4 linked regions of the Homo sapiens genome follow. The protein of the gene in region 3 purifies or fractionates together with the protein of the main gene of each other region. This does not show direct contact. Each region holds a gene or a part of one and is shown on either strand. Other genes may lie near its edges.

Region 1 (7,024 bases), on a different chromosome or scaffold from region 3:
TTTGTCTTTCTGTGCCTGGTTTATTTTATTTAATACAATGTCCTCTAGGTTCATCCATGTTGTCACATTTGACAGAATTTCTTTTTTAAAGCTGAATAGTATTCCATTATGTTGTATATACCACATTTATATCCCATCCATCAATGGACACTTAGGATGATTCCATATCTTGGCTATTGTGAATAATGGTGTACCTAACATGAGAGTACAGATACCTCTTTGACATACTGAGTACATTCCCTTTGGATATATATCTGGTAGTGAGACTGTTGGGTGATATGGTAGTTTTATTTTTAATTGTATGAGGAACCTCCATACTGTTTTCCACAATGGCTATACTAATTTACATTGCTACCAACAGTGTGCAAAGGGTCCCTTTCTCCCTACATTCTAACACTTGTTGTCTTTCATCTTTTTTATAATAGCGATTCTAACAGGACATGCCATCTCGTGCTTTAATTTGCATTTTCTTGATTAGTGATGTTTTAATACACTTGTTGACCATTTGTATGTCTTCTTTTGAGAAATGTTTATTCAGATCCTTTGCCTATTTTTTAATTGGGTTCTTCTCTTGTTATTTTTTGAGTCCCCTATATATTTTGGATAGTAACCCCTTAAAAGATGTATGGTTTGGCAAATGTTATTTTAGATTTTACCCTCTTCTGTGAAGGCTCAGAAGGCTGACTGCCTTCAGACCCAGGAACAGAGACTTAAATGAGCACTGAGATTTGCTTCCCCAGAACAGTTTTATAGATAGAAAAGCACTTCTGGTCAGCAACTTAGAACTGTTCGTTTGTCGGGAACAGTTGTGTGAGTGGAAATTGCAATATCAGCTGTTATCAGCTCTAACTAGGTCTTGAAATTTGCATAATTTCAGCTCCAGTGTTACATGAAAGTTATGTGGTGTTTGGAAGGATGCCTTTTTCTTTGTTTTTTAGCAAAGGAGTCTTTTAAATCATTTGTATACAAAAGGAATTAGGATCCAAATGCTGTTATTGATACAGGTTTGATGCTTCAAATGTGGCTTTTCCCTCCCTTAGGGGTATAGAACAGGCTATGCTTACAGGCATCCTCTCATTCGAGAGAAGCCTAGGCACAAGAGTGATGTGGAAATCCCAGCAACTGTGACTGCTTTTTCCTTTGAAGACGATACAGTGCCACTCTCTCCTCTCAAATACATGGCACAGAGGCAACAGCGTGAAAAAACAAGATGGCTGAACTCACCAAATACTTACATGAAAGTGAATGTGCCTGAGGAGTCTCGGAACGGAGAAACCAGTCCCCGAACCAAAATCACGGTATGCCAGTATTTTATGTAGTTTGCCTTTACTAAATATTTTGCCTAGTTACTCAAGAATTGAATGTTCTATATTGAAAATATTTGGAAAGTAAAATAATATTAAAAATATTACTGTCACTTATCTGGCTTTAACTTTGTGCAAGACACTCTTCTAAGTGCCATACACGAATTTTCTCATTTAACTCTCCTAATATGAATGATGCTGTTTTTCTATTTTATAGATGAGAAAACCAAGGCAAGAAGGGTTAATTAATCATGTTTTAATGGTAAACTCGGGATTTGCATGAAGACAGTCTGACTCTTGAGCCCAGTTCTTGTCCACTACATGATACTGCTTTGTAGTTTCTATTAAACTACACCAGTAGTTTAATTCACCAGTGAATTAAAACTGTAAAAGTTATCAACTCCTAATTGTACCAAAGCTGCATGAATCACTGCACATAGCTACCCTTAGGCAAGATCTTGTAGGTAGAGAAATGGGTTATTTTATCTTTTTCAGAATTTTGCATTAGATTTGGTTTGGTTTGGTTTTGGAGTGCATACCACCAAACATTCTCTAGGTCAGTCTTGTCCAGTCCATGGCCCAGGATGGCTTTGGATGCAGCTCAACACAAATTTGTAAACTTTATTAAAACATTATGAGAATTTTTTGTGATTTTGTTAAACTAATCAGCTATCGTTAGTGTTGGTGTATTTTATATGTGGCCCAAGACAGTTCTTCCAATGTGGCCCAGGGAAGTCAAAAGATTGGACACCACAGTTCTAGATATTCAGAATTAGTTCATCTTATATAAACTAATGGCATTCAATATGAAAATACCTAGGCATCAAAATGTCTTTTCTGTAGTCTATAAGATTTCTTGCCTCCCAGTAAAAGAACATAATTAAACTCATTGGTTTCTCAGAATTCATTTTGTTTACAGAGATTGATGGTCAGCCATCATTAATCTTGATCGAGATTCGCTTTCTTTAAGGATTATAATATGGGGTAAATGAGAAGAATTATGTAAGCTCCTTCCAACCCCGTGGTTCTATTTTGCTATTATATACCAGATTATCCCCATTATAAAATGCCGATTAGGGCTTGGCCTTTTCTGTCAGCCAAAAATAAAAAGTGAAGTCTGATAAACTAAAATCTTAAGATATTTCTTAAGTTTTTTTTTTTTTTGATTACTCCTTTGCCATCTTCATCTGACTGCTGTCTTCAGTGCAGAAGACAAAACACTGAATGTGAGTGAATGTGAGATCATGCTCTCTGTGCTTGAAGTAGTTTCAGCATCATATTTTCACTTGACACAAGGAGAAAGTTTAATTAGCAGTATAATTGAATATTTATGTGAATCGTAATGGCATTTATTTTTTAAGTAAATGTTGATTTTGAGCCTTTTCTAACTAGTATGAGATGAAACTAATTCACCACTAAGATACTGCTTAGTGAAATTATTTAAACATTGGCAATGCCCCTCTTGAGACTATAAGCAGTTATCTAACAATCTACTAATATTTTCTTAACACAAAGCTTCATTTTAGAAAATTTTTGATTCTTTAGTGGATGAAAGCAGAAGACTCATCTAAAGTTAGTGGTGGAACACCTATCAAAATTGAAGATCCAAATCAGTTTGTTCCTTTAAACACAAACCCGAATGAGGTACTAGAAAAGAGAAATAAGGTAAGACATGGTCTTCTATAGCCAGGGGAGACATTTTAATTGCTTTATGTTTAAATCACCAGTGGTTGAATCTGGTTAATGCCAAACTTAGAAGTTTGAATACAGAAGAATTTGGAATTTAATTCAGTATAATTTTAGCTTATATTGAATGCCTCCAGCTCTGTGCTAGTAATTGGTGAACAGGCTACATGGGGAAGATGTATTGAACATTTTTCTGCGTTAGAGAACCCTGCTATTAGGGGGAAAATGCAGTTCTCTAACAACCTAAGACGAAAGGAAATAACTTGCCATAAAGAGCAGAGGAGACTAATATGAGTTGTTAGGATGGTAAAAGAGGTCTTTATGGAGGTGGGAATTGAAGAGACTCTCACTCTGGAAATGTCAAGTAGTAAGCTTTTATGAAAAGATAAAGCAAAGGTCATCTGCATAGTTGCCCTCAAGAACTTTATATTGAATTGTTTTTCAATTCAGATTCGGGAACAAAATCGATATGACTTGAAAACAGCAGGACCACAATCTCAGTTGCTTGCTGGAATTGTTGTGGATAAGCCACCTTCTGTAAGTTTATGAAGTAGTATGATCTTTGTTTTTTATTTACCACATTAATTTCATTGATTTTTAAATATGAATATTTATTTTTACTAAGGTTAATATAAGCACAAGTTAAAAAGTCAACTCACAAGATTTAAAATGTCACCCACAATTCCCAGTTTCCAGGTGCAGCAACTTTCTGTTCTTTTCATTGCTTCTAATGTTTACTTTGGTGTTTCTGGTTAGTTAGTTGAGATGAGGTCTCACTCTGTTGCCCAGGATAGTCGTGAACACCTGATCTCAGGTGATCCTCCAGCCTTGACCTCCTGAAGTATTGGGATTACAGGTATAAACCACTGCTCCTCGTCCTCCTTTGATGTTTCTAAAGAGCATCTTCTGCTTTTTCTTGGTCTATCAGTTTTAGACCTTGACTATTTTTCATCAAATCTGTGTTATCCGTTATAAGAAGTACCATTGTTTTATATGTCACTAAAAGAGAAAAAACACTGCCAATTATAATTGTTCCCAATTTCAGAGATGGAAAAAGTTCATCTTAGAATTAATGAAATATTTTTGAAAGATGGGGATTTAGCCTGTTTATACAGTGCTTCCCTTTTTCCCTCTCCCCATTCTCCCAGTAAGGATACATCACAGTTTTTGTTTTTTGTTTTTTGTTTTTTTCTGTTAGATCAGCTTTCGTTATTTATATTACTACATGTTTGCTGCTAAGCCAGGTAGTATTTCCTTTCTTACATAAGTCACCCCTCCCTACTCTCACCTTGCCTTTTTTTCATTGGCTTATTATTTGGGGTACATTGGCTTAGTTCTTCCCGAACTTTTTAAAAGAATTATAAAGTCCCGGCTGGGTGCAGTGGCTCACGCCTGTAATCCCAGCACTTTGGGAGGCCGAGGCGGGCAGATCACGAGGTCAAGAGATCAAGACCATCCTGGCCAACATGGTGAAACCCCATCTCTACTGAAAATACAAAAATTAGCTGTGCGTGGTGGCGTGCACCTGTAGTCCCAGCTACTCAGGAGGCTGAGGCAGGAGAATCACTCGAACCCGGGAGGCAGAGGTTGCAGTGAGCCAAGATCATGCCACTGTACTCCAGCCTGGTGACAGAGCGAGACTCCGTCTCAAAAAATAAGAATAACATAAAATCTGTCCTAATATTATTTTCCACAGGGTGAAAGTCAACAGGTAATCTCTCTGTTCCAGCCCCCCTTCATTCTGATCCAAATCTAAATTGGTTGCTCTCAGGCCAGCTGCACAGGTTCATCTGGAGGATTCCTGTGCTGCTGATCTATATTGTATTCCGTTTCCTGTATCTTGTGTCTTCTGCTTTCTTGATTTCCTCCTTTACTGTAGAACGCACCCTCTAATAGCTTTCCGAGAAAAGGATACATAGGTGGTAACAGTCTGAAATGCCTTTATTCTATCTTCAAATGTGCATATAATGGATATAGAATAGTTTAGAAATAATTTTCCCCTGAAATAAGAAAAGCATCATTCTGTTCCCTATTTTATTGTTGAAGTAGGAAGGCATTGGAATTCCTGAACCTTTGTTTAGGATTTTTTTTTTTTTTTTTTTTTTGCTTTTAGACCCTTTCTGCATCCCTGCTGTTCTGAAATTTTATGATTGTGTGCTGATCTCTTTTTAGTCTTTTTTCTAAGTAATTAGTAACCCTTTTCAATCTCCAGAGTCATATCCTTCAGTTCTGGAAGTTTTTTAAAAGTGTTTCTTCAAGAGTGTTTTCTTCCCATTTCTTTTTCTGTCAGTATATTATGTTAGTTTGGATGTTGGGCCTCTTTGAGCCTCTGATTTTTTTCTTTTCTCTCCTACTTGCCATCTCTTTATCTTTGTATCCTACTTTCTGGGAGAATGTTTTCTAACCCTTTTAATTTTTTATTTTGATGTTAACTTTTTTAATTTATTTTATTTTATTTATTTTTTTTGAGATGGAGTCTCGCACTGTTGCCCAGGCTAGAGTGCAGTGGCGCGATCTTGGCTCACTGCAAGCTCCGCCTTCCTGGGTGCACGCCATTCTCTGCCTCAGCCTCCCAAGTAGCTGGGACTACAGGCGCCTGTCACCGTGCCCGACTAATTTTTTTTGTATTTTTAGTAGAGACAGGGTTTCACCGCGTTAGCCAGGATGGTTTCAATCTCCTGACCTCGTGATCTGCCCGCCTTGGCCTCCCAAAGTGCTGGGATTACAGGCGTGAGCCACCACGCCCAGCCAACTTTTTTATTTTTAATAAGAGTTCTTATTCCCTGAATGTTCCTTTTTAATAACATCCTGATCTTTACACTTTCTCTTATTGCTCTAAGGGTATCAATTTTAAATTTTCTTCATTTGCCTTTGTTGTCTTTGTCTATTCTGAGTTGTTCCGTATGTCTGTTTATATGGAAGAATGAGACATTAAAGCATATCAGAAGCTCTGGGTATACACAGAGCTCGGGGATTGGTGGGCTTCACTGTAGGGTGATTGGATGTGGACCAGGTTGTTTCTCTGGGGAATCCCCAAACATTATTCTCTGTAATTCTTTTATCTGGGACTATTTAGTTTATCTGGAAAAGAACTCCAGTCTCCTGCCAGTTTCCAACCATCATTCTAGGAGCCTGCAACTGTATTTTGTGTCCCCTAGTTAGTTTTTCTTTCTTTCTTTCTTTCTTTTTTTTTTTTTTTTGAGACGGAGTTTTGTTCTTGTTGCCCAGGCTGGAGCGCAATGGCGTGACCTCAGCTCACGGCAACCTCCGCCTCCCGGGTTCAAGCCATTCTCCTGCCTCAGCCTCCTGAGTAGCTGGGATTACAGGCATGCACCACCATGCCCGGCTAATTTTGTATTTTTAGTAGAGGCAGGGTTTCTCCATGTTGGTCAGGCTAGTCTCGAACTCTGGACCTCAGGTGATCTGCTCGCCTTGGCCTTCCAAAGTGCTGGGATTACAGGTGTGAGCCACCGCGCCCAGCCTAGTTTTTCTTTCTCAAGCCTCTGATCTTCTGCAGAGATGAGAGAGAGGGAAATGCTTGGCTCTGTGGAATAGGGAAGGGAACCTGGGAATCTGTTTCCTATTCAGACTTTGAACATGTTCCTCTATTTTCACCTTTTCCTTACCACCACCTTCTATGGTACCTATTGCCTCTAGTTTATGGGCCTTACCAGACCTCTTCAGGGCAAATAAGCATGCTTCTCATTTGCATCCTTTTTTTCAGGACTGAGGCTTCAACTTTCTCAGCTCTGCTACCTGCTGTTCCACTTGCATTCCAGCTTCCAAAAATATGTTAACATTTCTCATCCTTTGTTGTTTCATCTCACATTCTTTTGTCCTTAAGGGTGTTTTGTTTTGTTTTTTTCTATTCCTTTACTATCATTTTAGTGGGGTTTTGGGAGGGATGAAAAATAAATACATGGGTTCCATATGCCAACTGCAACTGAAATTCTCATTATTTCCTTTCCTGGAGAAAACAGCTACAAGCTTATTTTCGTAACAGATTTAAAGAACTACTTTTGGTACAGTTTCAT
Region 2 (7,024 bases), on a different chromosome or scaffold from region 3:
TCAGGTAAGGGCTTTCATAAGAAGATGACTAACTAGTGGAATGATTAAGATCATAGGTCCTGGTTTGGCAGCTTTGCAGAAGTGGGCCATGGTGGCATTTGGAGCACTCCCACTGCCTGTTAAAAGAAAAATTTTAGATGAATTAAACTTAACAGAGTTTGAGCAAAGCATGATTCAGGAACTTGGGAGCCCTCAGAATCAGAATGGTTTCTGAGTGACTCTGAGGCTGCCACATGATTGGATACATTTATGGACAGAAAAAGGAAAGTGACCTACAGAAAATGGAAGTGAGATACAGAAATGACTGGATTGGTTACAGCTTTGTATTTGCTTTATTGGAATAGTGTTTGAATAGTTGGCTACCTGTGATTGGTGGAAGCTCAGCTGCTGTGGTTGGCTGAGACTCAGCTACTTGTCACAAGAGTAGGTTACAGTCTATTACACATCAAGTTGGGTTACAGTTTATTATACGTGGAAAAGCCCTTAGGCCACACTTAAAATATGTAAGGAGGCAGCTTTAGGCCAAACTTAATGTAACATGTCCCAGGCCAAGTGTATGATAGCAGATGGTGGTTTGAACGAGGGGAGGGGCCTAGACAGCTATGGGACTTGGCCTGTGATGTGAGAGTCAGATTATGTGAGGTTTTGTGCCATCTTATGTCAGACTTGCTAGAAATGGCCAACACCTGGAATGGATGCCTTCCATTACATGTTGCAACCATTAACATCTAAACTATGGATATTTCAACCGAGGCTGCTCACTAGGGATTAGGGAGCTTTTGAAAAATCCTGATGTCCAGGTCATACCTCAGACTAATTATATTAGAATATCTGGCATCAGTACTTTTTAAAGTTCCCAGGTGATGCTATTGTGCACCCAAGGTTGAGAACCACTGCTCTAGGCTGAGGGCTCAGGCCATCAGCTGACCCTTGAGGAACTCTGTCCATGCGCCTTCCCTTGAACGAACTGTTTGCCTTTCCCCTAGAGGAAGAATGCAAACAAGAACAACAGGAAACCATCTGTGTATTCTGGGCTGATGGGATGGCCTTCCACTGTCCTCCAAGCTTATCTATGGCATCATTCTCCCCTCACCCCACCCAGAGAGACTGCAAAGGTAGTGTGTGGAGTTCTGGTAGAATGTGGAAGAAGAGGTTACAGGCAGCTCAGGGACAACAAGAATATGCTCTACTGGACATCAGCAAAGCCTCCTTTGTAATGAGCTTCTGACCAGAATCAAGGGTAGGCTGGGGCCAACAGGACTGCTGGAGCAAGGCCGGAGGGAGCCAGGACTGGCCAGCCACAGGCAAAGGGCAGATCAGGACCTGGGAGGCCAGGAGTCTTCTCCCAAAGAACAAGAGAGCATTCCATCTCCTCATGGAATGGGAGCCCATGGAGGTAAAGCAAGGGAGTGGCAGGTTATGGATGAGAACCCAGGTGTCCTGGTCCCTTGTAATGCTCTTTTATTTGTATCTTCACATATATGTTAAAAAGCTAATTATTGTTCAGCCAAAGTACATGCTGCCTTCTGCTGAGAAGAGAATCAGCCAGCAGGGAGAAGGCCAACGCTCTGTAAGGCCACCCTGGGTGTTGAAGGGGCAGAGCACCGATTTGAAGGCCTTGCAGTGCCGACACAGGAAAGGAGACGGGCTTCGCAAATTCCCACTGCCGGGAAGTGAAGCCCGGAACTGCAGGCTTACTCTTCAGAAGGGCTCCAAGATAGCAACAGAAAACATTTCTTCATTCATCATTCACACATTTTAAAAAGTATTCTTGATTAGAAAAAATCCACAGGTTTCCCCCAGCTTGACTTTCCAGAGGCTGTCGTGGTCCTTGCTCCAGGGAGCAGGTTTACACGCAGCACGTGGGGCTCTGGCAGCCGGGCAGCATGGCACCCTGCAAACCATATTTAGTTGTTGTTTCTCAACATGAGTTGAATGGGATTGGAGAGAAAATAATTTTCCATTAATAAAGTTGCACACCTCTTTTTAAACTTGGAATAAGAATCTGATTCTGCATTAAAACAAGTTTCAGAAAAACAGATTCACCAATAAATTCCTTTCCAGGGGCCAGAGCGAAGTTTAAGTTGTAAAGAAAAGCATTGGGCAAAGCGCTTCCCACGTTTCAGTAGTTCCTGTGCTCTTTTAGTAGTAGTCTTAGTAGGCCCTGTTTAATAGTAGTATTCTTTTGTGAATTTCCCACCATAATTTTTTTTTCTTTTTAGTTCTGTGATACGTGTGCAGGATGTGCAGGTTTGTTACATAGGTAAATGTGTGCCATGGTGGTTTGCTGCGCCTATCAACCCATTACCTAGGTGTTAAGCCCAGCATGCATTAGCTATTTCCACCATAATTTTTGAGGGGCCTTATTAGAGGGTTTCCATTTTAGATGAAGTACTGATTTCCAGTAAGTAGCTTACCACTGCATAGGTGTGCATCACAGAAATGCTCAACAAGGTCTGCAGGTCATGTTTCCATTCGGGGAACTCTCTACTCCAAGCCAAGTGTGACCATTTAAGGGCTGGCTAGTTGGGGAAGGGAGTGGACACCTGAACCCATGTTTTTACTTAGTCTCATGGCACAGCAGCGCCCCTATAGATGGGTATATGGGGCCGCTGCTGGCGTCCTGCCCTCCTCCCCAGGCTCTGCCTCTACCATCCTAGGAACAGCCGTACCCCACTGAGAATCCAACTGAACCTAGCCCTGTGCTCTGAGAAACGTGTACCCCGATGGGGAGCACCAACCTGACCGCATACCCTCTCCCCTTCTCTGTAGAGTTCCAGGAGCGAATTGCAAACCCACCGGGAAAATGAGCGAAGAGACGGTCCCCGAGGCTGCCTCGCCGCCGCCCCCGCAGGGGCAGCCTTACTTTGACCGCTTCTCAGAGGACGACCCCGAGTACATGCGCCTTCGCAACCGGGCGGCGGACCTGCGGCAGGACTTCAACCTGATGGAGCAGAAGAAGCGCGTCACCATGATCCTGCAGAGTCCCGTGAGTGGGGCTGACCCGGGCGGGAGAGGGCGCAGGGGGCGCTGGCTCTTCAGGACGTGTACCCACCCGAAAGATGAGTAACTCCTCTTTCCCTTGCTCAGGGTCAGTAGAAATGTAAGCCCACTGAGCAAGACGGATCTGGTCACCTGGGGCCTTGACACTCTCCCTTGTAACTGGTGGATGGCAGAACCTGGCTTGTGTGTGGCAGTTTGGCTTGGTGCGGGGGGAGGTGGGACGGAGACAGGAGTCCCCCTCAGTTTCCTGTGCCCCTTCGGAGCCTCAGTTCCCAGTCTTCCCTCCTCACCAAAAGCTATGACAGTGAACGGACAAATCCATGTAAACTAGAGACCAGCAGGGTGCCAGGAGGAGGGCTTGGGGCTCCCTTTACTGAACACCACAAAGTAAGAACTTTCTGTCGGGACAAATGAAGCTTTGACATGAATGGGATGGGGCTGAGGAGAGCCTGGAAGCCCCAGGAGGTGGGCAGAGTGGAGGGCTCAGCCGGGCTGTGGGATGGGGTGTGGGAAGGGAAGGCAAGTCGGGATCACTCACATCCCTCCTTACTTGGGGCCAGTTGGTTCCTGCCTGGCATGGACACAGCTCCTCCTTGAGGCAGGTAGTGCCTTGAGAAGGCCGAAGGGTGGGCCCTGTGGACCACTGAAGGCAGAGGGAGATCACTGTGGTGGAGGCAAGAGGGGTCTGACTGAGGAAGAGCTTGGGGGGCCTCAGGAATCAGCCCATGATCCTAAGGATCGGGAAGCCCAGGGACAGAGTTGGCATCTCCAATTGCTTGCCAGGATGGGCTCGAGATGGGAGCCGCTCTGCCTTGGCCTTCTGGGCTCCAGAGAGCCAGGGCCTGTGCAGGGGCTGTGTGAGACCCTGGCTGGGAGCCATGGTGCATACTCAGGCCACACAGAGCAGCTCCAGGGAATGGGCCGAGGTCCAATATCTGTGCCCAGATATTGTGTTGGGGAGCTGGGAGGAATATGGCAGATGCTGAAAGCATTGGGGTGAAGAGCCTCTGGGAAAACCCCCAGAGTGTGACTAGGAGGGGTGGCAAGGGGGTTAGGAGAGGCGGCAGAGTTAGCACCAGCCCAGATTTCAGGGCTCAGGCAGTAAATAGGGGTTGGAGGAGGGCCTGCTTCCTTCTTCCCTTTTACAGGTTGGCCAACACACCTAAGTGGCCCCCCATTTCCTCCTGAGTGTTTTCTCCTGCCACCTGGTGGGCAGGATTCCTTGCTTATGGCTTCATGGTCTGAAAAGCCAGGCTTAGAGTTGGACATCAGGAGTGGAAGTGACCTCAGAGGTCATCAAATCTTCCTGTTCTTCCTCCTACCCTTTCATTAAGCACATGAGGAAACTGAAGCCCGAAAGAATCACAGGCATCGCTAATGGAGAGGGATGGTGGCTCTCTCCATTCAGTTCTGCCTAAAAAAATGTCCTTCATTACTAAAGTGAAGTCCTACCATGTCTGATGGTGGGGAGGGGTCTTGGCCCTCATTTAGACACAGAAAGGACCTGGAATCTGGATTACTGCCCACAGGGCAAGGGAACACAAGATCCATTCCCAGCATTTCTTTGTTGCTTCCCATACAGCAATTCCTGAGGTCCTAGTGGAACTGCTCAGTGTCCCCTGTAGCTGGGGACCCTGAGCATGGCCCTGACCTAGCTGACCCAGGGGCAAGGGGTGGGCACTTGGAAGAGCTCATTGTTGGGCAGCTGTGTGAGAGGCTGTGGGGGGACAAGCACCTCGGGGCCTGCTTCAGTCTTTCAGGGAGGAGCTGGAAGGCCTCATCCAGGAGCAGATGAAGAAGGGGAACAACTCCTCCAACATCTGGGCCCTGCGACAGATCGCGGACTTCATGGCCAGCACCTCCCACGCAGTCTTCCCGACATCTTCCATGAGTATGTGGTGTCTGGGGAGCTGCCAGGAGCAGAGGTGGAGGGGAGGGTGGGGTGGGGAAGAGAGGGAGGAGCAGCAAGAAGCATCTGGTTGCCAGGCTATGGAGTAAGCAGCCCATTGTGTTATCAGGCCTTGGGGAGCTCAGCAGCAGCCAGAGAGGTACCTGGCTCTGCTTCTGATGTTGCTGCAAATTAAACGTCCACAGAAAAATTACCCCAATGCCAGGAATAAGAGGGTGGAGGTGACTTCAGTGGACGGGAAGAGACCACTGAAGCCTGTGTTTCCATGCCCCACTAGACAGGCCAACCTGACTCCACAGATGAGGGCTGAGAGGAGCCAGCCAGGGCTATGCAGGAAGCCACCCTCCTGGGCTGTTATGCTCTGCCCATAACGTTTAAAACACAAGCATCAAAAAATAACTCCCCCTCAATAAGATTATTACAGGATTATGGCTGAAAACTGTGAAAATAACCAAGAAAGGGAAGCAGAAATCATTCTACTGTGTTCTTAAAGCCCTCATATTACTATTCTTAATATTTTGGTGAACATATATCCTTCCAGTCCTTTTTTTCTTAACATATATAGATTATGCAAACACAAATGTAATCACATAAAATATGGTTCTATAATATAATTTTTGGTGGATACATGCTATTTAATAAATTTCCCATTGTTGGACTTTTAGGTTATTTCCAACTTTTTCTGTTAGGAACAATGCAATAAACATCCTTGTAAATAAACCTGAGATTATATCCGTGATTATTTTCTTAAGATAAATTACTAGTAGAATTGCTGAATTGAAGTACATGCATGCATGTTTTAAAGACTTTAATGCAGAATGGCAGATTACATCCTTTCTCCAAATGGATCCAATTTACGTTCCCAACAGTAATGCGGTAGAGTGCCCATTTCCTCTACCCTGGTCCATAGTGTATACTACCATTTGTTTCATCCTCCTGATTCAGTAGGTGACAAATAATACTTTATTTGTGTTTTAATGTGCATTTGTTTGACTACTGATGAGGTTGGATATATTAATGTATTTTCACATACATATTGGACATGATTTTCTTCCTTTCTCTCTCTCTTTCTCTTTCTCTCTTTCTCTTTCTTTCGTTTTCTTTTCTTCTTCCTTTCCTTTCCTTTTTCTTTTCTTTCTTTTCTTTTCTTCTTCCTTTCCTTTTTCTTTTCTTTCCTTTCTTTCACGCAGAATCTCACTCTGTTGCCCAGGCTAGAGTGTAGTGGTGCAATCTCAGCCCACTGCAACCTTCCAGGCTCAAGCAATCCTCCCACTTCAGCCTGCCAAGTAGCTGGGACCACGGGCACGCACCACATGCCTGGCTAATTTTTGTATTTTTTGTGGAGACAGGGTTTCACCATGTTGCCCAGGCTGGTTTGGCACTTCTGGGTTCAAGTGATCCACCCACCCCGGTCTCCCAAAGTGTTAGCATTACAGACGTGAGCCACCGTGCCCGCCCCTGACTTTCTTTTTATAGTAAATTGCCTTTTTACATCCTTTGCCTATTTTCCTATTAGTGTATTATTTTCTTATAGATTTTTACATTTTTATAAAGTAAAGCTGTTTCTCTATTATCTGTCAAATATATTGCTTTTTTTTTTTCCAGTTTCTCCTTTGTCTTTTAGTTTTGTCCATGGCATTTTTTTTGTCTTGTAGAATTCTTTAGTTTCTGTGTAGCGGAAACCATTGTAATTTTCCTTTGTGTGTTCTGCTTTTGATTGCATGCTTAGAAATACCTTTCCCATGTTTCATCATCTGATGGAACAAATACCCTTAATTATGCATTTGTCAATTTTCCTCAACTGTTTGTACAAGTTTATTCTTTACAATAACTTTAGGCCAGGCACAATGGTTCATGCCTGTAATCCCAGCACTTTGGGAGGCCAAAGCAGGTGGATCACCTGAGGTCAGGAGTTTGAGACCAGCCCGGCCAACATGGTGACACCCTGTCTCTACTAAAAATATAAAAATTAGCCAGGCATGGTGTTGCATGCCTGTAATCCCAGCTACTTGGGAGGCTGAGGTGGGAGAATTGTTTGAACCCTAGAGGTGGAGGTTGCAGTGAGCTGAGATTGCACCACTGCACTCCAGTCTGAGTGACAGAGCAAGATTC
Region 3 (7,069 bases):
AGGAGTTCAAGACCAGCCTGGCCAACATGGTGAAACCCCGTCTCTACTAAAAATGCAAAAATTAGCCGGGCGTGGTGGCACATGCCTGTAATCCCAGCTACTCGGGGGGCTGAGGCAGGAGAATTGCTTGAGCCCGGGAGGCAGAAGTTGCAGTGAGCTGAGATCATGCCATTGCACTCCAGCCTGGCTGACAGAGTGAGACTCTGTCTCAAAAAAATAAATAAAATAAATAAATAAAAATGACTGCATCACTTCATACTCCTACCAGCAATGCATGCAGATTCAATTTCTCCACATCCTTGCCAACATTCGTCATTGTCTTGCTGATTAAAGCCATCCTAGCGGGTATGAAGTGGTATCTCATTACAGTTTTGTATTTGCATTTCCAAGACCATGGCTAATAATGTTAAGCATCTTTTCAGGTGCTTACGGGCCATTTGTAAACTTCTTGGGAGAAATGTCTATTCATATGTCCACTTTAAAATTAGGCTTTATTTGTCTTTTTATTGTTGAAGTGCCTATCATCATTTAAAGATGCTCAAGTCTCTACCATTTTAAAGCAAACAAACACTTGGTCAATTCCAGATCCTTGCTGCAGCCACTGCCTTTTAAAAAGAATCTCTGGGTTGGGTGCCGTGGCTCATGCCTCTAATCCCAGCACTTTGGGAGGCTGAGGCGGGCGATCACGTGAGGTCAGGAGTTCGAGACCAGGCTGGCCAACATGGCGAAACCCCGTCTCTACTAAAATTACAAAAAATTAGCTGGGCTTGGTGTCAGGCACCTGTAATCCCAGCTACTCAGGAGGCTGAGCCAGGAGAATCGCTTGAACCCGAGAGGCAGAGGTTGCAGTGAGCCAAGATTGCGCCACTGCACTCTAGCCTGGGTGACAAGAGCAAGACTTTGTCCAAACAAACAAACAAACTAACAAAAATCTGTTTCTTGCAGAATTTCTTGAAAGAGTTCTCCACACTTGTGGATTCTACCCACTCTCTTTCAAGCTATTGCAATCTGGCTCCTGATCCTAACACCACTGAAAGTGCTCTTGGCAAGGTCACCAGTGCCTATTCCGTCACTAAATCCAATGGACTTTTCAATTCTTTGTTTATTTGATTTCCCTGTGGCATTAATAAACATCAAGGTCCTCTTCATCTTTGTTGAAAGATTAGAGATGCTTGGTGTAAGTGACAGCACATGCTTCTGAGTTTTCTCATTCGTCTCTGGCTGCTCTTTCTCAAATCTTCTTCAAGATTTTGTCCTCAGTCCTCTTATTTTCCACCTTTATATGGTTCCACTGGGCAATCATGTTCATTCCCATGGGTGCCTACTTAACACTGCTGACTCCTAAATCTCATCTCTAGCTGCTGCCCAGACTTGCCTCCTGGGATCGAGGAGAGTATATCTGTCTAATCAACATCTCTGCTTGGATTCCCATCTATCCTCAAAATTTATCCCAAACCAAACGTTTTATCTTTATCTCTCTTGCCTTCCCTACTGAATTATGCCGATTTAAAACTTTTAAAGTCGGCCGGGCGTAGTGGCTCACGCCTTTAACCCCAGCACTTTGGGAGGCCAAGGAGGGTGGATCACCTGAGGTCAGGAGTTCGAGACCAGCCTCGCCAACATGGCAGAACCCCGTCTCTACTAAAAATACGAAAAAATTAGCTGGGCATGGTGGCGCACGCCTGTAATCCCAGCTACTCTGGAGGGTAAGGAAGGAGAAATAGCTTGAACCCGGGAGGCGGAAGTTGCAGTGAGCTGAGATCACACCATTGCACTCCAGCCTGGGCAACAAGAGCAAAACTCCGTCTCAGGAAAAAAAACTTTAAAGTCATTCACATTCGTCTGCTTCGTTCCATTCTCACCACCTATGCACTGGTCCAGTACCATTTCTTAAAAAGATGACAACATCTTCCAGCTCCAACCCTCTTCTCCAAACCTAGCCAGAGATCTTTGCAACATGCACATCTCGCCATGTCACTCCTCTGCTTACATGAGCTATTGTCGGCAACGGGATTACAGTGGCTTAGGAGTCAGACACACTTGGGTTTCAGTCTTAACACCATAACTTATTGGCTGCAAAACCGTGGGTGAGTTAATTTCTCTATATCTTAGTTTTCTCATTTGAAAAAAAAAAAAAAAAGAGCCACGAAGAGCACCTCCCACAGGTCTCCCCCAGGGTTGAGACCATACACACCATGTCCTTGGTTCAGAGTCAGGCACATTTGAACTGTTTAATACATTTTAACTGCTATTTTTATTAAACCCTTTCAATCGAGGCAAATCAACCTCTTTCATCCTAAAATGTGGGGATTAGATGGAATGACTTTAATCAACTCTTTTGAGACAAGACACCTTTGGACCCTGAAGCCTCCCTGGGTGCTGGCCACCCCTCCGGGGAGGAGGCATCCGTGGGTGCAGCTGGTACTCCTGCATGAGGACCCAGAGGGTCAGGGTCGGGGACTCCTTCTGCTGCAGGACAGCGCTGACCCCAGGCTTCTTACCCGCCCCCGACCTGTTACCCGGCGACAGTCCCCGCCGCCCCGTCGCCGGGCACAGACTCAGCCGATCCACAGCCATGAGTGCGAAGCCTCTCAGGCAGGGCAGGCAGGCAAACCGCAAACCCACAGGGCGCACCCAGCCCCGCCGCTTCCTCCCGGGCCTCGCCCGCAGCTGGAGGAGAGAGGAAGGAGGAGGCGGCGGGCAGCGGGCAGCGCCCACCCCATCCCACCCCATCCCACCCCACCCGACCCCGCGGGCCCGGCCGCCCGAGCCCGGCCCCAGCCCTGACCCCGGAGTCCCGGTCGCTCACCTTGAAGGACATCCTGCACATGTCCGCGGCCGCCCGAGCGGGAGCCGGCGCGCTTTGGGCCCGGGGCGCCTTGTCCTCCCCGGCCCTTCACTCTCCCGGGGCTCTCGGCGTTCCGCAGAGGGGCGGCCTCCGACGCCGCGCGCTCCCGCCGCCCGGCCCGGCAGCAGCCGCCGCACACAGGGCCGGGCCGAAGGGGCGGCGCGGGGGCGCGCGCGCGCGCACACTACACATGGGGTGTCGCGTGGACGCGCTCCAGGACCTGCCACACACGCGCGTGCACAAACACCCCAAACTCCGCACGCACTGTGCACTTTCCACACACGTCCACACTTCCACACTCACTCGTCCACACACACACTCCAAACTCCACACACATTGTGCATACGCTCCACATTCCACACACACAGAGGTTCCACACACATACTTTCCACACTCACGCCCACTCACCCGCATGTACTCACACACAAACTCCATACATATCCTCCCAAATAGACTGGTCTGCCCCAGAGGACTCCCAACCTTCATTACAGCACAAATATTATAATGATGTAAAAATGAAGCTTGAGGAAAAAATTCATCCAATAGCTATTTTCGTTATAATTTCTTTCTCGGTTTCCTGGGAAACTTTTTTCTCCTGGGGAAAATATCTAGGAAACAAACCTTTTGATTGCACAAACAATAAGTGGTCTTTTCCTCTTTGAAGGGCAAAGGCCAATTTTGGAATAGACTCATACCCCTCCTCCTCCTCCGCGTTATTAATCCAGCAGTTCCCTCCTCCTCTGGGTCTGATGCTGCAGCCCTGGAGTATTGCAGTATGTGTGTCCACTCCTGCTGCCTGCCCAGGATTGGTTTGGGCGAAGTAAAACTGGGAGTTTTAAGTATAAACGGCAACAACAGCTCTTTGAGAGCATTTTAGAAAAGTGAAAGTAAAAAAGTAGCCCAGGCATAGTGGCTCACGCCTATAATCCCAACTCTTTGGGAGGCCAAAGGCGGGCAGATCACTTGAGTCCAGGAGTTCGAGATCAGACTGGCCAACATGGCAAAACTCTATCTCTACTAAAAATACAAAAATTAGCCAGGCGTGGTGGTGCGCACCTGTAGTCCCAGCTACTCGGGAGGCTGAGGTGGGAGGATCGCTTGAACCTGGGAGGTTGAGGCTGCAGTGAGCCAAGATTCGGTCACTGCACTCCAGCCTGGGCAACAGAGCAAGACTCTGCCTCAAAAATAAAAATAAAAACAAAACAAAAAAATAGTATAAAAATGGAGGTCTTACCCCCTCAAACTATAAGAATCCACTCATTCATTCTCCCCCTCCTTCCCTCTTCTCAATTAAATTTGTAACGAATATTTAATTTAAAAGGTAGAAAACAATTACAAATAAAAGTTAATGATAAAAATTAAAATGTTTAACCTTCATGGATAAATTGTATTACTTTGTGCTTAAAACAACTTTAAATTAAAAACATTCTGAACTTTTATAGAAAATTCCAATTTTAAAAATAAGGACTCTAAACATTTTCCTTGCCTTGAGTGCCTATAAATGACACAGTTTTTAAGTTGCCACACAACGTTATTATATAAAAATCAAGCATCAGAGGTTTTGCTTTAATAGTTTTTTGTTTGTTTGTTTGTTTTTTCTTCTCAGATGGAGTTTCGCTCTTTTGCCCAGGCTGAAGTGAAGTGGCATGATCCTGGCTCACTGCAACCTCCACCCCCCGGGTTCAAGCAATTCTCCTGCCTCAGCCTCTCGAGTAGCTGGTATTATAGGCTCCTGTCACCGTGCCCAGCTAATTTTTGTATTTTTAGTAGAGACAGGGTTTCGCCATGTTGGCCAGGCTGGTCTCGAACTACTGACCTCAGGTGATCCACCTGGTTCGGCCTCCCAAGGTGCTAGGATTACAAACGTGAGCCACCGCGCCTGGTCTGCTTTAATAGTTTTGATAAATAAAAGGGAGAAAGGAAAGAACTAATATTTTGAGTGTTTTCTAGGTACAAGGTGCTTTCCTTATAAACATTTTATGGGGTGAGTATTAACCCATTCCACGGATGAAAAAACTAAGATTCTGAGAGATTGGAGTAATTTGCTAATAAGTGATAGGGCTAGGTGTTTGTCTAGCTCCAAAGCCTGTTTCCTTTCCGTTACACTTGAGCTCAAAGCTGCTTTTCTCTGGCCAGGGTGCTGATGGGATTCTTGTCAGTCTCTGGAAAGAACGTGCCTAACACCGTCTGACACACGCGGTTAAACTCATCTTCATATAAACAGCTCTGAAATGGAACAAAGCTCTCATGGTCACAACAGGCAATTCTTTCTAAAATGGTCCACTCCAAACTTTAATAGTGACCCACTGGACCTAATACAAGATTTAATCTGCACGGCCCAGTTTTCTTATCCAAACATCTTCTCACTACCCAAACAGAGCCTCTCCATCCTTGTCATCCTGTCAAACAAAAGGGATAAAGGAAAAAACTAATATTTTGAGTGTTTTCTAGGTACAAGGTGCTTTCCTTATAAACATTTTATGAGGTAGGTATTATACCTATTCCATAGATGAAAAAAGTAAAATTCTGAGAAAATGGAATAATTTGCTAATAAGTGATAGAGCTAGGCGTTTGTCTAGCTCCAAAATCTTATCACTGCTCTCTTCCCACTACGGCTCTCTTTCATCTCCTCTCTTTTGTCTGCCAAATCCCAACCTACCCAGGGTGTTACCCCCAGCTCAAGTTCCTCTTCCTACACCCTGGTTCTCAGTCATCTTCCTCCCAACTTTGCTGAGCTCTTGCCATGGTTCTGCTCTACACCACATCCCTCAACCCTGATTCCACAGGGTCTGGTATTGCTCTCAGTTCTACTTCTGTTGCTTTTGATTTCTTCAGCAGAGTTGAAATTCTTCAAGGCCAGGCCCTGTGTCTTATGTATCTTTTATTTTCCCCAGGGGCTAATTTACGGCTGGAGGCATGGTAGATGGTCAAAACTTATTCATCATTGAATTAGTAAAAGAGTCAGGGGGTTGTGTTATCCAAATCTACCAAGTCAGAAGGCCCACTCTTATCCACAGACATGCATTACTCAGATGCACAGACATCTGTGTTGATCTCAAATGAGTCCATAGTCATTGTCACCTTCTGTTCACACCAGCACAGACCTTGATGTGTTTGGCCTCTATTTTGCACTGTCCCAGTTGATGGTCCAACAGGATTTGCCCTCGACAGAATTGAGAAGTAGGTCAATCTGGTCTACTGAGCTTTCTTTTTTTTTTCTTTTTTCTTTCTTTCTTTTTTTCAAGACGGAGTCTTGGTCTGTTACCCAGGCTGGAGTGCAGTGGCATGATCTTGGCTCACTGCAACCTCCACCTCCCGGGTTCAAGCGATTCACCTGCCTCAGCCTCCTGAGTAGCAGGGATTACAGGCACAGGCCACCAAACCCGGCTAATTTTTGTATTCTTAGTAGAGACGGGGTTTCACCATGTTGGCCAGGCTGGTCTCAAACTCTTGACCTCGTGATCTGCCAGCCTCTGCCTCCCAAAGTGCTGGGATTACAGGCATGAGCCACTGCGCCCAGCCTACTGAGCTTTCTAACACCCTTTTTGTAATCAGGCTCCTTCATCCAACTAAGAGTTCATGCTGGACATCTTTTCTGTCTTTATTCTCTGTCTACTTCCCCATCCCACATCTTTTAAAATTTTTGTATCTATTTATTTTTTATAAGGATAGGGTCTCTGTCACCCAGGCTGGAGTGCAGTGGCAGGATCACAGCTCACTGCAGCCTGGAATTCCTGGGCTCAAGCAATCCTAATGCCTCTGCCTTCTGAGTAGCTAGGACTACAGGCACATGCCACTATACCGTCTAATTTTTAAAAACATTTTTTTACAGATAGGATCTCGCTATGTTGTTCAAGCTGGTCTTGAACTCCTGGCCTCAAGCCATCCTCCCACCTCAGCCTCCCAAAGTGCTGGGATTACAGGCATGAGCCACCATGCCCAGCCCTTGTTTAATTTTTAATTTTTATTTAATTTTATTTTTTAGAGATGGGGCATCACTATATTGCCCAAGCTGGTCATTAAGTCATAGGCTCAAGTGATCCTCCCTGTCAGCTTCCCAAAGTGCTGGGATTACAGGTGCATGCCACTATGCCCAGCTTCCACCTCACATCTCCCAGCTAGTTAGCTCCGTCTCTCCTAACCTATTGGAATTTACCCTAGATGAGGCTTCTTGCAGTGGGGACTGTAGCAGACACAGCTTGGAGTAATCTACCCAACACC
Region 4 (7,591 bases), on a different chromosome or scaffold from region 3:
TGAGTCAGGCTCAGGTGATTCTCTCACCTCAGCCTCCCAAGTAGCTGGGACCACAGGCCCACACCACCAAGCCCAGCTAATTTTTTGTATTTTTAAGTAGAGACGGGTTTCATCATGTTATGCAGGCTGCTCTCAAACTCTTGAGCTCAAGCGATCTGCTGGCCTCAGCCTCCCAAAGTTGGGATTATAGGCGTGAGCTACCAGATTTTTTCTTATTAATCTAATAATTCTTTGTATAGTCTTGATATTATCCATAATGTGTATTGCAAATATCTTCTCTAACTCTGGCTTGACTGTTTATGGTGTCCTTTTTTTTTGGGGGGGGTTTTTTGAGACAAGGTCTTGCTCTGTCACCCAGGCTGGAGTGTTATGGCACAATCTTGGCTTATTGCAGCCTCAATTCCTAGGCTTAAACAGTCCTCCCACCTCAGCCTCCTGAGTAGCCGGAACTACAGTCACGCACTTCCATGTCCAGATAATTTTTTTTTTTTTTTTAGAGATAGGATCTTACTATGCCCCAGCTGGTCTCAAACTCCTAGACTCAATGAGCCTCCCATCTTGACCTCCCAAAGTGCTGGGAGTACAGGCATGAGCCACTGTGCATGCCAGTTCTTATTTTTAATGCAGTTGAATTGATCAGTGTTTTCATTTTGGTTAGTGCTTTTTGTGGCTTAAGAAATTCTTTCCAGGCTGGGTACAGTGGCTCACACCTGTAATGCCAGCACTTTGGGGGCAGAGGCAGGAGGATTACTTGAGCTCAGGAGTTTGAGACCAACCTGGACAACATGGCGAAACACCATCTCTACAAAAAATACAAAAATTAGCTGGACATGGTGGTGCGTGCCTGTAGTCCCAGCTACTCAGGTGGCTGGGGTGAGAGGATTGCTTGAGCCCAGAAGGTCAAGGCTGCAGTGAGCTGTGATTGTGCCACTGCACTTCAGCCTGTGAGACAGAGTGAGACCCTATCTCAAAAAAAACCAAAAAAAAAAAAAAAAAAAAGAAAACCACTGAAATTATTTCCACTCCAAGGTCATGAAGATAGTCTCTTAGATTATATTCTGAAATCCTTATAAATGTAAATTTCATATTTAGGCCTTTAATTCACCTAGATTTGGTTTTTTGCATATGGTGTGAGGTAAGGATTCACTTTCATTTTTTTCTCTCCATAGGGTTACACACCTGTCCTATCATTGTTTGTAATCTAACTTTCTGCGCCCATCTGCAATGCCACCTCTGTCATATGTCCACATATGACATATGTAGATCTGTTGTTGGATTCTTTCCTCTGTTCCATTAGTCTGTCTGTTCTTGTGCCAATATCAAGCTGTCTTCATTATTATCAATTATGTATTGAGATCTGATAAAGTAAGTCTTTTCCACCTTATTTTTCTTCTTTGAGAGTGTCTTGACTATTCTGGCTCTTTGTATTTTCATGTAAGGTTTTTCTCCCATATAAGTTTTAAAATCAGCTTGTCAATTCCAACAACAATGATGCACTTGATAGTTTGGGAATTTATTATAGCTATCAATCAGTTTTGGGAAAATTGACGTCTTTACAATATTGAGTTTTCTGATTCATGAACATGGTTTACCTCTCTTTCCATTTGGGTCTTCTTTAAGGTTTACCAATAGGATTTTATATTTTTGTCCATTGTGGTCTTGCTTATCTTAAGTTTGATTTGTAAATATTTTATGTTTCTTTTAGTCTATTGTAAATTGTGTATTTTTAATTTCATTTTTTTTTTTGTTAATAGCATATAAAACACACCTTGTCTTTTAACTGGAGCATTTTGTCCATTGTGTATTTAATGTAATTAAATCTACCATCTTATTTTATGCTACATATTGTCTCACTTGTGTTTGTGTTTTCTTCCTCCCTTTTCTCTCCTTTTCCCCTTCTTTGAGATTGAGCAACTTAAAACAAATCATTTCATTTCCCCCCTTCTCCTAGTTAGAAAGTTAAACACTCTCTATTCTTACTGAAGTCTAGAGTTAACTAATAAATACTTTTATCCTCCTCCTGGACAACATAAGGACCTCAGGTGACTTTCATTGGTCTCCCTCATTACTTGATATTATTGTTGTATATATCTAATTCTAACTCAATGTATTTTAAAACTCTCACCTAAGACCGTATTTGTTTTTTTGTTTTTTTTTTTTTGGAGGCAGAGTCTCTGTCACCCAGGCTGGAGTGCAGTGGCGCCATCTTGGCTCATTGCAACCTCCATCTCCTGGGTTCAAGCAATTCTTGTGCCTCAGCCTCCTGAGTAGCTGGAATTACAGGTGCCTGCCACCAGACCCAGCTAATTTCTTGTATTTTTAGTAGAGACAGTGTTCTGCCATGTTGTCCATGTTGATCTCTTAACTCCTGAGCTCAGGCAATCCTCCCGCCTTGGCCTCCCAAATTGCTAGGATTACAGGCAAGAGCCACCACGCCTGGACCTTTTTACTTTTTTGTAGTTGGAAAAGGAAGGAATATTTTAATAGCTTTAAAATTGTTTTATTATGATAAAATTTTCATATTATAAAGTTTATCATTTTAATTATTTTAAAGTGTACAGTTCTGTGGCTTTGCGAATATTCATATTATTGTTCAGTCATCACCACCATCCATCTCCAGAACTTTTTCATCACCCCAAGCTTAAACTCTGTACCCATTAAACACTAAATCCCCATTCCTCCAGCCCTTTGCAACCACCATTCTACCTCCTGTCTCTCTGAATTTGACTACTCTAGACACCTCATACAAGTGGAATCATACATTTATCTTTTTGTGATTGGGTTATTTCACATAGCATGTCTTCAGTGTTCATCCATGTTGTAGCATGCGTCAGAATTTCCTTTCTTTTGGCCAGGCATCGTGGTTTATGGGTTTATGCCTGTAATCCCAGCACTTTGGGAGGCTGAGTTTGGATTTGGGAAGATTGCTTGAGCCTAGGAGTTTGAGACCAGCCCTGGCAACATAGTGAGATCCCGTCTCTACAAAAAATAACAAAAATTAGCCAGGCATGTTGGCACGTGCTGGTAGTCCCAGCTACTTGGGAGGCTGAGGCAGGAGGATCCCTTGAGCCTAGGAGGTCAAGGCTGCAGTGAGCCATGGTTGCAACACTGCACTGCAGCCTGGGCGACAGAGACCCTGACTCCAAAAAAAAAAAAAAAAAAAAAAAAAAGGCACAAAACCCCAATAAATAGAATTTCCTTCTCTGCATAATGCTGCTATGAACATGGTACAAATAGCTGTTTTCATTTCTTTGGGGTATATATCCAGAAGTGGAATTGCTGGATTATGTGGTAATTATGTTTAATTTTTTGAGGAACCACTCTACGGTTTTCCACAGCAGCCACACCATTTTACATTCCCGTCAGCGATGCACAAAGGGTTCCAATTTCTCCGCATCTTTGCCAACACTTATTTTCTTTTTTTCCTCTTCTTCCTCCTTCTCCCCCCTTGAAACTTTTTGTTTTCTTCTCGTTTTTGTAGAGAACAGGGTCTCCTTATGTTGTCCAGTCAAGTCTGCCAACTCCTGGGCTCAGGCTATCCTCCTGTTTCTGCCTCCCTAAGTGCTGGGATTTTAGGCTGAAGCCACTGCGCCCAACTCCCTGCTTCTTCAACTGCCATCCTAATGAATGTTAAGTGGTATCCCACAGTGGTTTTGATTTGCGTTTCCCTAGTGATTAACTATGGGAAGCAGAAGTGAATGAGACAGAATTGTGATCTTGTCAGAAAAATCGTCTTGGAAAAGCCAACGTCCAACAGAAATGGTTAGAACAGGGGTCGCTGGCTTCCATCCAGACAGTATCCCTGACCCTTGTTGGGGCAATGTCACAGAGGCTCCTGCTGAGCAGGGAGGTCTGGATTCCACACTCTTCTGCCACTGCCCAGCTCTGGACCTAAGCTTTCTATGGGTGTCAAGAGGACAAGCAGCCGTGCCCATTTGTCTCGCTGCTTGTTTTTTTGGGTGTCAGATGCGCCAGCAGGAGGGACAGTGTGCGGGAAGGTGCTGGTCTGAGGCTGGTCCTGCCAAAGCCCCGCAGGCTCACTCCCTGGTCGTGCGGAGGTGGCTGGTGCTCGCTGGTCTCCTCAGCACCCGCAGGCCGGGCCCGGGGGCCAGGCAGTTGTCCTCTGTGGAGCCTTATCGGGGCCCACAGGCCCTGCTGCCTTGACCCCACCCGGGCCCCAAAACTCGGCCTGGGGACTGCACAAGGCGGGGCTACGCGGGGCAGGGCCCGTCTGCTGGGGGAGTGCGCTGGGCGGCGGCGGGAGGGCAGGGTCCCTGGGCTCCGACAGCCCCTCCGGCGGAGGTCAATCACAATGAAACCGTGTCCAGCGGACCCGGCAGGGGCTCGCCGCAGTCTACCTGGCCACCGTGAAGCCATGACCTGGCGCCCGAAGCTGCCGGCCGGGGTGTACTCCGCGCGGGACCCTGGGCCTCCGCAGGCCCCGGCGGGGTCGCCCCGAGGCGGGCCTGGCGAGTCCAATCGCCCTGCCCGCAGGGGACCCGCCCCTCATGGGTCCCGCCAATCGCAGGGTACGTTGCTCGGCAGTGCTGCGCGGCTTGGCCTATGGGACGGCGCGTTGTTGGGCTGCAGCGCCGCAGGCCGCACCCAGGTCGGGCGGTGGGGGCGAGCGGAGGGGCTGAGGGGCGGAGAGGCCTGGCGGGCCGCTGCTGCGGGCCAGGGGACGGGGGCGGAGCCGGAGCCGGAGCCGACGGGCGGTGGCCGCACTGGGACCCCGGAATCCCGCGCGCTGCCCACGATTCGCTTCTGAGGTGAGGCTAGCTAGCGGGGGCGGCGGGGGCCCGGTTCGGGCTGAGGCGGCGGCGGGGGCGCGGGGAACTGGGCCGCGGTTGCGGCGGGCGGGGGCCGCGGGGCCTGCGGCGGCCCGGGCAGCCTCGGGGGCGGGGAGGCCGCTGCGGCGCCGAGGGCGTCTTGGAGGGGTCCCCGCGGGGCCTTCGGCCTGGGCCGAGCCGGGGAGCGAGGGCGCCGCAGATCTTTCATCGGGATAGGACCCCGGGGACTAGGCTTTTCCCGGGCCGCTCGTTCCTGGCCGGCTTGTGGGCTGCAGGGGTGGGGGCGGAGGAGGACGACCCTGGCTGGACGCTGGTCAGCATCCTGCTTGTGAGACCGGTTCCGCGGTCCGCAGCGCTGGTGGCTGCAAGGTTTGTGTACGGACGCATCTGTCGGCTCTCGTATTTAAAAACGACGGCTTCTGCCAAAAGAGAAAAGCCATATCTGCCGACGGACGCTCGAGAGATAATCGTGGAACTTTATCAGCGATGGGGCTGTTGGTCACCTTTGCCCTCCCTCTCTTTTCTTTTTTCTTAATCTTTTATTTTCGTTTTTTGGGAGATGTCAGAGGGCCTTTCCCTGTTAGGATGACTTTTATCTTTGCTCTTGTAATGGCTCAAGATAGTTGGGAGGTAATTTGCATTCACTTTATGCATACCCACCTTGAAAAACGTATTTTGGTTCGCCTGAAACTGTTGTTGGTTTGAGCATAATTTATGTTTAGAAAGACAAAAAGCAATTGTCATATCTCCAAAGACCAAAGACATAGCTGATAGCTGTATGCATTACTGGTAAGTTAAAGAAAGATTTTTTGTGTGAAAAATTGACTGAGATCTTAATGGGGATAGGAAATAGAATGCTGATAGGTCGACTGTGTCTATGAGTAGAGGCGCCTAGTGAAAACAAGCTTGGAGTGGATGAGTAGGAGTTCAACAGGCACCAGAGAGAGGAGGGCATTTCAGGCAGAGGGTGTGAATTGTATGAAAGTGAGTTTGTAAACTTTGGAGCCTTGAATGGACAAAGGCCCGCGATGATACCTTTTTTTTTTGAGACGGAGTCTCGCTCTGTCGCCAGGCTGGAGTACAGTGGCGCGATCTCCAGTCACTGCAATCTCCGCCTCCCAGGTTCAAGCAATTCTCCTACCTCAGCCTCCCGAGTAGCTGGGACTACAGGCGCGCGCCACCACGCCCAGCTAATTTTTGTATTTTTAGTAGAGACGGGGTTTCACCATGTTGGCCAGGATGGTCTCAGTCTCTTGACCTCGTGATCCGTCCGCCTAGGCCTCCAAAAGTGCTGGGATTACAGGCGTGAGCCACCGCGCCTGGCCTACGTTAAAATTTTAATATACTCCTTTGATTTTGACAGTGGAGAAAACTAGAATAGTAAAGTTGTCTTTTCAGGAAGTGGATGATTTGGGCAGTCAAAACTGCTTTTCAGAGTTTCGATGTGGTTTACAATGGTATGGACAGCTGGTATGATTTGTTAGTTTTCTACTTGTGGTGTCTTTAGGTTTTAAAGTTTCGGAGAGTCGCTGAGTGATGTGAGTCTAAACTCTAGCCAGTCCCCGAATTGTGAGATAGTTTTCCTTCTAAAATATACTTCGTACAAGCTGGTCATTTTTCCCCTTAATTCTTTTGATGTTATCTGATATACTGAGAAGGTTTTGTTTGGTGTTCAGTTTTGTGTTACTGATTTTGCCATAAAAACTGTTTATTTACATGATTTTTAGTTTTTAGTTCTTATAGTCTTTGAATTGAATAAGAAAAGTAAATACTGAAATGCTTTGAAAGATAACAAAATATTTACTTATTGCTTGAAACTTAGAGTTAGATTGACTGCCCTTCCTTTCTTTCCTTCCATGTTTACCTCTTAACATATACACATATGTAGAGAGAATAGTATAAACCCCTTTTCTCAACCAGTTTCAACAGTCAATCTTGCTTCATCATATCCCCGCAGTCCTAGATATCCTTTAACCGTTAAATAGTTCAATATGTATATCTTAAAGACTTAAACAAAAGGTAAACATGAGTACCACTATCACAGAAAATGAATAATTCCTTAATACTTTCAAATATCCAGCCAGTGTTAAAATTGTCAGAATTCTCATTTTTTTTCTTAACAATTTCAATCGATCCACATGCTATCTATACAGTGTGACTCATTTTAATTGATAGTTTCCCCTCCATATTTAGTTTTCTCTTGTAATTTATTTATGGATGAAACCTGGTAGTTTGTCATGTGGAGTTATGCACAGTCTCAATTTTACTCTGTGGCATAGTTTCACAGAATTTACTGAAAACTGGTGGTTAGATCTAAAGGTATGATCAGATTCAGCTTTACTTTTGTCAAGCAAACTTCTTAGGTAAGTAGGCAGAAATGATTAGTAGTCTTTGTTCGCAGCCCTTGATTGTCAGTGCCTACAGTCATTTCAGCAAGCATTGAATATATTGATATTTGAATTCTATAACTTCTTTTATTAAATAGAATATTTTTATAAAGATAATTTTTCATGCCTCCACTATTTGGTTATCTTGAGGTATCTCTTACAGAAAAGGGAGGATAAATGCTTAATTCTTCTCCATTATTTACTAGGTTTCACATAATGAATTGTTTCGCTAATATCCTTCAAAAGTAGCCAATGAAGCTGGGCATGCTAGGATGGGCCTGTAATCGTAGCTGCTCCTGAGGCTAAGATGGTACGAACCTGTGAGCCTGGGAGGTCGAGGCTACAGTGAGCCATGATCACTTCACTGCACTACTCTGTCTCTTTAAAAAAAAAAAAAAAAAAAAGCCGAGCGTG

What was found.
Region 1: the proteins of ANKRD29 (region 3) and ADD3 purify together in Homo sapiens (affinity purification with mass spectrometry; 4 studies listed by BioGRID and IntAct, with this or other methods). This does not show direct contact.
Region 2: the proteins of ANKRD29 (region 3) and ADD2 purify together in Homo sapiens (affinity purification with mass spectrometry; 3 studies listed by BioGRID and IntAct, with this or other methods). This does not show direct contact.
Region 4: the proteins of ANKRD29 (region 3) and ADD1 purify together in Homo sapiens (affinity purification with mass spectrometry; 4 studies listed by BioGRID and IntAct, with this or other methods). This does not show direct contact.

What each region holds. Positions count from the first base shown.
Region 1 is NC_000010.11:110,122,977-110,130,000, forward strand, and holds part of ADD3 (gamma-adducin), read left to right. Parts: intron 1-1,040; coding exon 1,041-1,298; intron 1,299-2,849; coding exon 2,850-2,969; intron 2,970-3,440; coding exon 3,441-3,527; intron 3,528-7,024. UniProt on the Homo sapiens protein: Membrane-cytoskeleton-associated protein that promotes the assembly of the spectrin-actin network. Plays a role in actin filament capping. Binds to calmodulin.
Region 2 is NC_000002.12:70,702,191-70,709,214, reverse strand, and holds part of ADD2 (beta-adducin), read left to right. Parts: intron 1-2,772; coding exon of another isoform or gene 2,773-2,806; coding exon 2,807-2,989; intron 2,990-4,755; coding exon 4,756-4,894; intron 4,895-7,024. UniProt on the Homo sapiens protein: Membrane-cytoskeleton-associated protein that promotes the assembly of the spectrin-actin network. Binds to the erythrocyte membrane receptor SLC2A1/GLUT1 and may therefore provide a link between the spectrin cytoskeleton to the plasma membrane.
Region 3 is NC_000018.10:23,659,901-23,666,969, forward strand, and holds the start of ANKRD29 (ankyrin repeat domain-containing protein 29), read right to left. Parts: upstream 3,012-7,069; 5' UTR 2,831-3,011; coding exon 2,810-2,830; intron 1-2,809.
Region 4 is NC_000004.12:2,839,256-2,846,846, forward strand, and holds the start of ADD1 (alpha-adducin), read left to right. Parts: upstream 1-4,588; 5' UTR 4,589-4,769; intron 4,770-4,894; exon of another isoform or gene 4,895-5,579; intron 5,580-7,591. UniProt on the Homo sapiens protein: Membrane-cytoskeleton-associated protein that promotes the assembly of the spectrin-actin network. Binds to calmodulin.